2 separate regions of the Homo sapiens genome follow, and region 2 is linked to region 1. The links come from fine-mapping of genetic effects on plasma protein levels. Region 1 holds a variant in brackets. A gene starts in the other region. All regions are shown on their forward strands. Region 1 holds the start of SMARCD3 (SWI/SNF related BAF chromatin remodeling complex subunit D3). Region 2 holds the start of SPINK2 (serine peptidase inhibitor Kazal type 2).

Evidence for each region. A credible set is the group of variants that fine-mapping cannot tell apart. PIP is the posterior inclusion probability: the model's chance that the variant is causal. Protein levels are from antibody-based Olink assays in UK Biobank. Linkage for the fine-mapping came from a reference panel and not from the study's own genotypes, which makes the PIPs less certain.
Region 2: SPINK2 starts here. The variant in region 1 is the best candidate, but not a certain one, in a credible set for the plasma level of the SPINK2 protein (UK Biobank, PIP 0.54).

What each region holds. Positions count from the first base shown.
Region 1 is chr7:151,243,868-151,249,233 of GRCh38, forward strand. It overlaps SMARCD3 (SWI/SNF related BAF chromatin remodeling complex subunit D3), which reads right to left and starts at 4,827. Exons shown (of 13, transcript NM_001003801.2): 1 at 4,618-4,827; 2 at 1,593-1,804. The coding sequence starts at 4,695. RefSeq lists enhancers at 771-1,345, 1,346-1,919, 1,920-2,494, 2,495-3,068 and silencers at 1,582-1,881, 1,902-1,981, 3,056-3,350. The variant G/A (reference allele first, on the strand shown) is at 3,349.
Region 2 is chr4:56,820,785-56,826,150 of GRCh38, forward strand. It overlaps SPINK2 (serine peptidase inhibitor Kazal type 2), which reads right to left and starts at 917. Exons shown (of 4, transcript NM_001271718.2): 1 at 674-917. The coding sequence starts at 878. RefSeq lists a silencer at 759-1,018.

The sequences.
Region 1 (5,366 bases):
CTGTCCTCTCTCAGGACACAGGAGTGACCCATCCATTCTCTGGCCTGGGAGCCCCCTTCTACCCTGCCACATCCTCAGGGACAGAGAAATTTAGACAGGAGGGACTGGCTGGTGGGGGCGGTGCTGCCAAAAGATGCGAGCTGCAGAAGTGTTTGAGGAAAGGTGGGGATGAGGGAGGACAAAGGAGAGGGAAGCCAGGTTCTGAAGACCTTTTCTGGAAAGCAGGGGGTGCCCTGTCCAAAGGGGCCTAAGCTCAGAGGGAGGGAGAGAGACGAACTCCTTCCTATCCATGGAGCGGGAGGTGACGGTGTGAAGCTGGCGGGACTTGCACCCCTTCCAGCCACCCTGGGCTTGGAAGAGAACGCTGATGGGCTGGGGGTACTCATGCCCTGGGACTACCTGGCAACAGGGTGAGGGACATGCTGCAGCCATAGGCGCCCAGAATGTGCATGGGTGTGACTTCAGGCTGAGGCCAAATTGACTAGGCCCGGGGTAGTAGCAGCTGGATGTGGGCTCTTTCTGACCCACTAGCTGCTTCTAACTAACCCAAAAACCCCCAGAAAAACCTTGGCGGGTCAAGAGATGAAAACGCAGCCCAGAGAATAGCTCCATACTGCCCCCGTGTGGTGTTCTCAAGCACTGCCCCCTCCCTATGCAGAAATCTAAGGCTAACAAGCGGATTTCATTAAAGGTCTGGTTTGTTTTAAACAGATTATCTATGTGTAACTCTCCATTTATACAAGATAAATCAGGGAATTACCATTTGCTGTACAAAATGACGATGCACTTTACTAAAGAATTCATCATGGGATTCCTATAAGTGGTGATTTTTTCCCCGATGTGTAAAAAATAATAATGAGGTAAAATTGATATTACACCTTTTATAGAAACCCATCTGTTGTGCAAAAAAAGCATGTGTATTTGGCTAAATACTGAAACCCGGAGGGGCACTGCTGTTGCCAGGAGCCAGCAGGGGCTTTGAGGGTGCCACCAGCTGCTGGAGGAAAGCAAGGAAATGGGCTGGCCCTGGTGGCTTGAGAGCAGACCTGGGCCAGAGTGCCTAAGAATTAAGAGCAGGACTGGGTAGAGACCACCTACCCACAGGGCAAATCCCCAAGCTCCACCCCCATGGTCAGAGAGTCCCATTGAGAAAATCTGGAGTGGCTTTGAAACAGCCCGGGGGCCGGCAGGAAGGCTCAGCGGAGAACCACACTTTGGGGAACACAGTCCTACACCTCTGCCCTCAGTCCCACTGGAAGCCCCGCCCCCACCCCAAAGACTGAAGCATCACCCAGAACCTGATGGGTGGAGAGAAGGACTGAGCAGGTGACAAGGAGAAGGGTGAGGGGAGCGTGCAGGGAAGCGGTACCGGCTGCCGACGCCGCAGCCTGTCTCTACCGTGGGCACACAAAAGAATCAGGCCGGTGCCCCCTAAGCCTACCTCCCCAGAGGGCATTCGACCCGGGAAGCCTCGCTCCCTGCTAATCATTCTTCCTCGCCCCTTCCAATCCCCGCTACTCGCTTACCTGGTCCCTGCGGGTCCCCCAGGGCCCGCCCCTGCACGCCCCCTCCTCGCCGGGCCTCCCACTCACCTGCGGCTCCGCGCGGGGGCGGTGGGCACCGGCTGGCCCTGGCTCTGTGCCTGGCTCTGCCCGGGCGGGGGCGCTGCTCGCTTGCGGGCGGGCTCCATGCCCGCGGGGGCCAGGCCGGGTCGCACGGCGGGGCTGCCCATGTACGGGGAGCCCGGGGGGCCCATGGGCGCCCCCTGGTGGGGCATCCGGGCTCCAGACGGCATCCCGGGGCGCTGGGGGTGGGCGGGGGTGAAGCAGAAACGGGCGCCCGTGGGTCAGACCAGGGCCCCCCGCTCCAGGCGCGGTGAGCCGGCGTCTCCCCTCCCCCACCAGACCCTCGGCTGGTGACCCTGAGCGTTGAGCGATGGGTGGGAGCGATGGGTAGGAGGGGCAGGGGCGCCGGAATCTGCGCGGCTCTGGCGGAGGGGCTTGGCGTCTGGCTGCAGGAAGCTAACTGAAGCCAGGCACCGCACAGGGCATTGCGAGCCTCGGGGCTGCGGAAGGTACCGCAAAAATGAATATTAATGGCGCCTTTCAACCTTTCAAAGATGTTCACATCCACATGCTCCTCTGCAAGACAGCCTGAGCAGGTCCTTTCATCCCCACTTGACGGATGGGGCCACTGTGGCTCAAGGAGAAAAATGACCTCGCCAAGGTCACACAGCTCATCCTGGCCCAGGCAGCCCCTGAAGGGCTGCCTCCTGGGGGCCCAGGGCTTTGCTCTCTGCGGCTTGGTTGAGGTCCGGTACCCGGCTCCCTGCTCCGACTTCTGCTCCTCCTCCTGCTCCTCCTTCTCAGGCTCCACTTCTTGGGCGGTTCTGCCTGGTACTCACTAGCTCATCTCAGCCACTCTGCTCCCTGTGTCCCTGCTTTTGACCCTTGGGTCCCAAACCCCACTCCCCTCGGCTGACTCCAAGTCCCCACATCCAGGGTCTTCGCTGACCAAGCTGCCCCCATAATTTGCTCCCAGGGTGAGGGCTGGAGGCAGGGCAGGCAAGGGCAGCCTGCTGGGGCGCCCCAGACACAGCCAGGATTCTCTGATTGGGAGGAGGGGAACTGCGTTAGAGGTGGGCTGCCCAGGGGGGCCTGGGGTGGGTCAGGGCAGTGACACTTGCACTCACATTTCCCTTCCTGTCTGCCCAGGTCAGCAGCCACCTCCTCCTCTTCCCATCCCCACCCCAGTGAGGTCAGCAGTCAGGGTTCATGGGGGCTGTGGAGACTGAGAGGAGGCGGCTCCTCCTCCCTTGCCACTACCCCTGGGTGGTCAGATGGGGTGTAAATGAGATGCAAATGCATCGAGCGAAGTGTTCCAAACCCCACTTGTCCAGACTCCAGAAGGGAGATGGGGAGGGCCAGAGAGAGTTTCAGGGGCTGTGAAACAGAAAGAGCGGGGTGGGATGGGGACTGGGACCACGAAAGCAGGAAGAAGATCAGAGGGCAGGGGATGCAGACCCTGGCACTGTTAACATGGACACACCACCCACCTCACCCCCAGGCATGAGGAGGGGCCCCCTTGGGCTTGCTGTTTTCCTTCCAACTGCTACCTCTCCCTCCTGGTCCTCCAGGCTCTGTGTCTAACCCTAATGTCCTCCCACCCTCGGTCAGCAGCTGTCTCTGCCTATCTCTCCTGCAGTGAAACCTGCCTGTCCATGTGTCTGCTTCCCTCACCCCACCTGACCCTGTCACTCAGGCCTCCAGGGTAGCAGCCCAGAATGGAGCCCAGGCCTGGCCACCAGCTAGGTGGGGCACTGGGGCTCACAGCCACTCAAGAACTGAA[G/A]CTGTAAGTTGACCAGATTAAAAAAACAGTCCACGTGTACAGCCTCTCCCCACTAGATGGGCCTTTTTAAAGGGGCTCCCACCAGCAGCCAGGTTAGGACTGGTAACTCAGCTAGCTGACATGGACACCTTGGGAAGTTACCCCCAGGGGTCCCTGGGGCTGGAGGACAGGCCACTCCAGGGAGTCCCCCTCTTCCTGTCAGCTGCTCTCCCCAGTTATCAAGGCCAGGGATACTGGCCCATCTGCTGAAGAGGCCCTGAGAGGGAGGCTTTCAGAGCCCCCAGAGAGCTGTGCCCGCCACCAGCCCCATCCCCATGAAAGGCCAAAATCCTAGGGACTCTGGCCTTACTGAGAGGGTGTCTTCCTTGGGGTCACAACCAAATTTGGCCATAGTAAACCCGACAGCTTCCTCTACACAGGGCCTCCACTCCCTCACCCATCCCAAGAGTCGCAGCCCCTGCTTCTCCCATTCCCCACCCCTCCATACCCCTCCCAGCCGGGCCCTACTGACTCAGCTCCAGCCTCCCGGGCTCCCACGTGCCTTCACAGCCTGCCTGTGGCAGGACAGTGCTCCCCTGTCCCTTCGGTCTCTAGGCCTCATGTCCCCAACTCCAGCCCCTTCCTTCACATGTTCGAGGAGTTAAGGACATCAGCTTCTGGTGGCTGAGTCCGCCAAGGAGACCCTCAGAGCCCCTAACTTGGGCTAAGTCCCTAGAGCGGTCCTCTCCCCCACCCTAAGGCAGAAGCTCCAGAGCCCTCCCGCTGGGATGCAGAGGTGGCTCAGCCTGCGAGCTTCCCGCTACAGTGCCTCCAGGGTCACCTGCTCCTTGCTCCGGAGACACAAGCAGTGACACTGTCCCAACGGATGAACAGACAGCCCAGCCCAGCCTCTGCCATGTCCCCATCCCCCACCCCCACCCCCAGGGCAGGGGCAACACCTGGGCCCACAAGGAAAAGAACGAAAGTCAACCTGTCGGCTACAGCGAGGACCCCCTACTTGGGGGGTAGAGTCCCCAAGTCCCACCCCCGCCCCTGACAAGAGCCATGCAAACGCCTCCCTTCCCCGCCTCGCGTCAGACCCGGCCGGCCGCCTGGCGACGTGTTCGGGTGCCAGGGCGCCAGCACAGTCCCGCGGCCGGGCCGTGGGCCATGACGCCCCCCACTAGAGGGGTGGGAGAGCGGGAGCGCCCTCCCGGCCCCTCCCGATCAGCCCTCCATTCAGCCCGAGCCAGCTCGCTTGCCCTCCCCCGCTAACTTTCCCCCACTCACCACCCCATGGACCAGAAACTCAAAAAGTTTGCTTTTCGTGGCTTTGCGCGCCCCTCCGGCAACTTCGTCCGCGGCCATCGGGGTGGGCTCAGCGGCTCCTCTCACTCTCTCTCTCTCTTCCTCTTTCTTTCCCTTTTCTGCCTTTTTTTTTCCTCCAACTCTCCCCTCTGAGTCCTGCTGGGCTCTCTCACACTTCTACTCGAGCGGAGTGGGGAGGGGGCCCCTTCAGGGCTGCCCTGACGGCCCACGGCCCACGCCGCCGCCGCCCGCCCGCCGCCGCCGCCGCCGCCGCGGCTGCCGCATTCCTGCACTGATAAGACAGAAATAGTCCGGCGGCCCGGGGTCTGCCTGTTGACTCGGCGGGGACGGGGCCGCCTGCCTTTCCAAGCCCGCTGTCCAAACAGCGCAGATAAGCGGCGAGGCGCGCCGACCAGCCCGGCCGCGGGCGCTGGGCAGCAGTGCTGCAGCCCGAAGCCGCCGAGGCCCGCGGGAGGCGGCGCGGGGAGGGGACGCCAGGGGAGGCGGCGGGGGGTCGCCGGCCACCGGCTCTCGCCACAAATAGTTTCTCCGTCAGGGAATTCGCCGGCCGCGCCAGGCAGGGAACAGTCAGTTCCAACTTTTCCCCCAGCGGCTCCTGCTGCATTTCTGAGGCCCTTTCCCCAGAGACCTGGCAGGCCGAGCAGGGAAACATTCGCTGGCAGGAACCGGGGGAGCCCGGCCCGCGAGGCCTCGCGCCTGCCCGGGGCCGG
Region 2 (5,366 bases), not on the chromosome of region 1:
TAAAATCCAGTTTGGGATTTATCCAGGCCACATCTTCTATTTTCCCCTCTAATGCCTACCTTCTTTAAACTGTCCCCATCCCACTTCCCCCAGAAAGGATATTCAGTTTTTTATGGCACCTCTCCCCAAAAGCACATAGAAATAACATTTGGTTCTGTTCCCATTAGGGTTGGTTGAGAAAGGACTTTGAAGCTATGGAATAAAAGTCGCGCTAGCGCACTGCAGCTTCAATTCCTGGTCTCAAGCGAGCCTCCCGCCTCAACCTCCGGAGTAACTGGGACTACCGGCCCAAGCCACTACACCTGGCCAAGGAAGTAACCCTTAATTAATAGTTCATGATGTTATTTTCCTTTACAACTCGGGGTAACAAATACAAAATTTAATATAAGATGTGAGCATTTTAACTCCATTTTAAGAGAGGTGTCCAGTGTGGTTGGACTAAAGCCCCTTTCTCGTAAGCATCCACAATTCCTCATTCCTGCACATCTCCTCCCTTGGGACCATACATAAAAACTCAACTCCTCATCTTGGGCACCTGAAAATCTACTTTAACAGAGAAAGCGCTCTAGATGGCAGGTGTCCTTAGAGCTGGGAGCGAAGCCCAAGCAAGAACTAAAGAGGGTGGCTGACTCCACAAAGCCACCCCCACAACCCCCAGTTCGCGTTCCTCCACCTGGCAGGTCCTCTGGGGAACCGCCAGTAACGGGCGCGCGGGTACCGTCGCCGAGGCCGCCCGGAGCAGGGCAGGGTCCGCCGCCGGTCTGACTCCCAAACCCGCTTTTCTCCGGAGGTCCCCGCTCGCCAGGACCGCTCCGAGCGCTACCTGCGAAGGTAACTGCCAGGAGCAGCAGCGCCAAGCGCAGCACCGACAGCGCCATCCTCCTCCCGCGCCGGCTGTCTTGCCCCTGCGGTCTGTTACCTGCGCCACTCGCAGGGAGCGCTCGTGCGACGGGGCGCGGGGAGGGCGGGGGAAGGGGCGGGGCGAGAATGGGAGGAAAAGCAGCGGTAGGTGGCGAGGGAAGAGGGGCGGCGGGAAGAGGAGCGGCGGGAAGAGGAGCCGTGAAGGGTCGGGGGAGAACCGGAAAGGGCTGGGAAGGAGAAAGGTAGAAGGACGGGGGAGGGGGCCATGGGGAAGGAGGGGCGAGGGAGATAGAGGAAGGGGCAGTTGTTCCCCAACACCTTCCCCTCCCCCCAAGGAGACGAAGGGGAAGACCTCTCCCTCCGACATACAAGAACCTGTGACAGTCCTAGGGGGACCCTTGTGGAGCTCTTGGGAGCTCTGTCAATCAACACCTATTTCTTAAGCATGTACTAAGTCCCAGATAGTGTTTCGTTGCTGAAGACACAGCCCTGACCTCGACAAAGGAGGTCCTTGCTCTCAGGAAGCGTTCTGCCTTTCCCTCTTTTAATATATTTTTTAACTATTTGAGTTGACACATAATGATTGTACATATTTATGGGGGTACATAGTGATATTTGGATACATACAATGTGTAGTGATCAAAATAGGATAATTAGCATATTCATCACCTCAAACATTTATCATTACTTTGTGTTGAGAACATTCAAAATCCTCTCATCTAGCTACTTGAAAATACATAATAAATTATTATTATTATTTAAATTTCAGACAGGGTCTCGCTCTTTTACCCAGGCTGGAGTGCAGTGGCACGATCTCAGCTCACTGCAACCTCCACCTCCCAGGTTCCAGTGATCCTCCCACCTCAGCCTCCCTCCCAAGTAGCTGGGACCACAGATATATGCCACCATGCCAAGCTAATTTTTGCATTTTTTGTAGAGAGGGGTTCTCACCATGTTGCCCAGGCTACTCTCAAACTCCTGGGCTCAAGCAATCCGCCCACCTTGGCCTCCCAAAGTGCTGGGATTACAGGCTTGAGCCACCGTGCTCGACCTTTATAATATATTATTGTTAATTGTCGGCACCCTACAATGCTATGAAACACTAGCACTTATCCTTTCTACCTAGCTGTAATTTTGTATACTTTAACCAACCTCTCCCTATCCCCCTATCCTTCCCAGCCTCTAGTAACTACTGTTCTACTCATTACTTCTGTGAGAAATAATTTTTGCCAAAGAGGCTGAGCAAGTTAGTGCATTAAGGCCAGGCGTGGTGGCTCACGCCTCTAATCCCAGCACTTTGGGAGGCTGAGCCTGGTGGATCACTTGAGCTCAAGAGTTTGAGAGGAGCCTGGGCAACAGGGCAAAACCCCGTCTCTAAAAAAAGTACAAAAATTAGCCAGGTGTGGCCATTGAGCTGAGATTGAGCTACTGCGCTCCAGCCTCAGTGGCAAAATGAGACCATGTCAAAAAAATTTGGCCAGGCACGGTGGTTCATGCCCGTAATCCCAGCACTTTGCGAGGCTGAGGCAAGTAGATCACTTGAGGCCAGGAGTTTGAGACCAGCCTGGCCAACATGGCAAGACCCCATCTCTACTAAAAATACAAAAATTAGCTGTGCATGGTGGTGCGCACCTGTAGTCCCAGCTACCTGGGAGGCTGAGGCATGAGAATTGCTTAAACCCAAGAGGCAGAGGTTGCAGTGAGCCGAGATGGTGCCACTGCACTCCAGCCTGGGCGACAGAGTAAGACTCTGTCAAAAAAAAAAAAAAGTGCATTAGCAGATCCACTTTTTTTTTTTTCTGCTTCTTATGCCTGTGTGTCAAATGATTCTGTGACATGTTGCCTTATCAGTAAGGGTCCAGTCTGGAAAACACAAGGTTTACTAGGTATTTCACCAGAGATAATTTAGTATAAGGAATTGGCTAATCCAGTAGGGATAACTGAAAAAAGCAGAAAGGGAAAACGAGGTAACACAGAGATAAAGCCTTTAGGAAGTAGGCATCATGCCTCGATCTAGGGGAACAAACGGATTAGGTTGGGATTCTCAGAACTAGAAATTTGGAGGAGAGGTCCTGGAAAGCTGGGACTCAGACCCATGGGAAGGGGGTGTTGCTTGGATATGCAGGTGGCTCTAAGAGTGTGTGGAAAAGCTGAAGACTGGAGCCAGGTGCAGTGGCTCACACCTGTAATCCCAGCACTTTGGGAGGTTGAGGTGGGTGGGTCACTTGAGGTCGGGAGTTCGAGACCAGCCTGGCCAACATGGTGAAACCTTGTCTCTACTAAAAAATATAAAACTTAGCTGGACATGGTGCCATACTCCTGTAATCCCAGGTTCATGAGAATCTCTTGAACCTAGGAGGTGGAGGTTGTGGTGAGCGAAGCACACCACTGCACTCCAGCCTGGGCAACAGAGTGAAACTCTGTCTCAAAAAAAAAAAAAAAAATGCTGGAGACTGGAGCCAGCTGATTCTATCAGAGTGATGAAGAGTCATTGCTGTGGCACTGCTGAAAGAAACAGCCAGCAGGCAGGAGCCAGTCCCTTCTCCCTCCTCCTGCCTTCCGGTGTCCCCCTGACAGACCCTATGGGCATAACCTTCTGGAAGCCAGCTGAAAAAGCAGAAATGAGGTCTGCTGAGACCTGGCACCACATAGCAGAGTGTAGAAGGGGGTTGTAGAGCTGATGGAGAATCATCTTATGACTGGCATGTTCCCATGCCCACCCTTGACCTTAGCAACCTCAAAGGCTGGAACAAGAAGACACTGTGCAGTTTTTAACTCCACTTGGCACCACACATGGCTGAGTTCTGGCTGGAATCCTGTCTGAGGCCAAGGGGTAAATTTGAAATGAGTGTTAGTACTTCTCTAAGTCACATCACATTCAGTTCTTTGAATAACAGTCATGAAATGGTCATGGGTCATTTTGCTGAAGATTCTTATCAAGGATTGATAAAATATAATTTATATATAAAGCTTTTCTCAACTGTGCTGGATGTCTGTTACCAAATGACATGTGCACTTGCTTACAAACACCTTTGATGCTCTGGGAACACAAATCTGACCCAGACTCAGGGGCAATGCTCAGAGGTGTGTGAGTAGGAATTTCAGCTTCAAAAGAAAAGCCATTTACCCCTCAAGATAGATTTTTTATAAATTTATGTGTGTGGATACAGCTGCCTTTAGGTTATTTTGTTTCAAAGAGTTGACACTGACTGGCAGGGTGGCTCATGCCTGTAATCCCAGCACTTTGGGAGGCAGAGGCGGGCAGATTGTTTGAGCCCAGGAGTTGGAGACCAACCTGGGCAACATGACAAAACCCTGTCTCTAAAAAAATACAAAAATTAGCCTGGTGTGGTGGCGCGCACCTGTAGTCCCAGCTACTTAGGAGGCTGAGGTGGGAGGATCACCTGAGCCTGGGAGGTGGAGGCTGCAGTGAGCCATGATCACACCACTGCATTTCAGCCTGGGTGACAGAGCGAGACTCCGTCTCAAAAAAAAAAAAAAAATGTTGATAATTATACCTTAGAAATATTTTCTATCATGGTGCTTTTCACATGTTGTCTCAGCATTTGTGAGCCAAGAACAAGGGTCAAAAAACATTTTCTGTAAAGGGCCAGATAGTAAATACCATTGACTTCTTGTCACAACTAAACTCTGCCATTGCAGTGCAAAAGGAGACATAGACTATAACTCAATGAATGGGCATAACTGTATTCTTTTTTTTTTTTTTTTTGAGAGAAGATCTTGCTGTGTCACCCAGGCTGGAGTACAGTGGCGCAATCTCAGCTCACTGCAGCCTCAACCTCCTGGGCTCAAGCGATCCTCCCACCTCAGCCCCACAAGTAGCTAGGAATACAAGCATCCGCCACCACACCCAGCTAATATTCTTGTATTTTTTGTAGAGGTAGGTGATATGGTTTGGCTGTGTCCCCACTTAAATCTCAACTTGAATTCTATCTCCCGGATTTCCCAAGTGTTGCGGGAGGGACCCAGGGGGATAATTGAATCATGGGGGCCAGTCTTTCCCATGCCATTCTCATGATAGTGAATAAGTCCAGGAGATCTGATGGGTTTATCAGGAGTTTCCATTTTTGCTTCCTCCTCATTTTTTCTCTTGCTCCTGCCATGTAAGAAGGGCCTTTCACCTCCCACCATGATTGTGAGGCCTCCCCAGCCATGTGGAACTGTAAGTCCAATTAAACCCTTTTTTCTTCCCAGTCTCATGTATGTCTTTATCAGCAGCATGAAAATGGACTAATACAGTAAATTGGTACCAGGAGAGTGGGGCGTTGCTGAAAAGATACCAAAAATGTGGAAGTGAATTTGGAACTGGGTAACAGGCAGAAGTTGGAACAGTTTGGAGGGCTCAGAAGAAGACAGGAAAATGTGGGAAAGTTTGGAACTTCCTAGAGACTTGCTGAATGGCTTTGCCCAAAATGCTGATAGTGATAAGGAGAATAAGGTCCAGGCTGAGGTGGTCTAAGATGGAGATGAGGAACTTGTTGGGA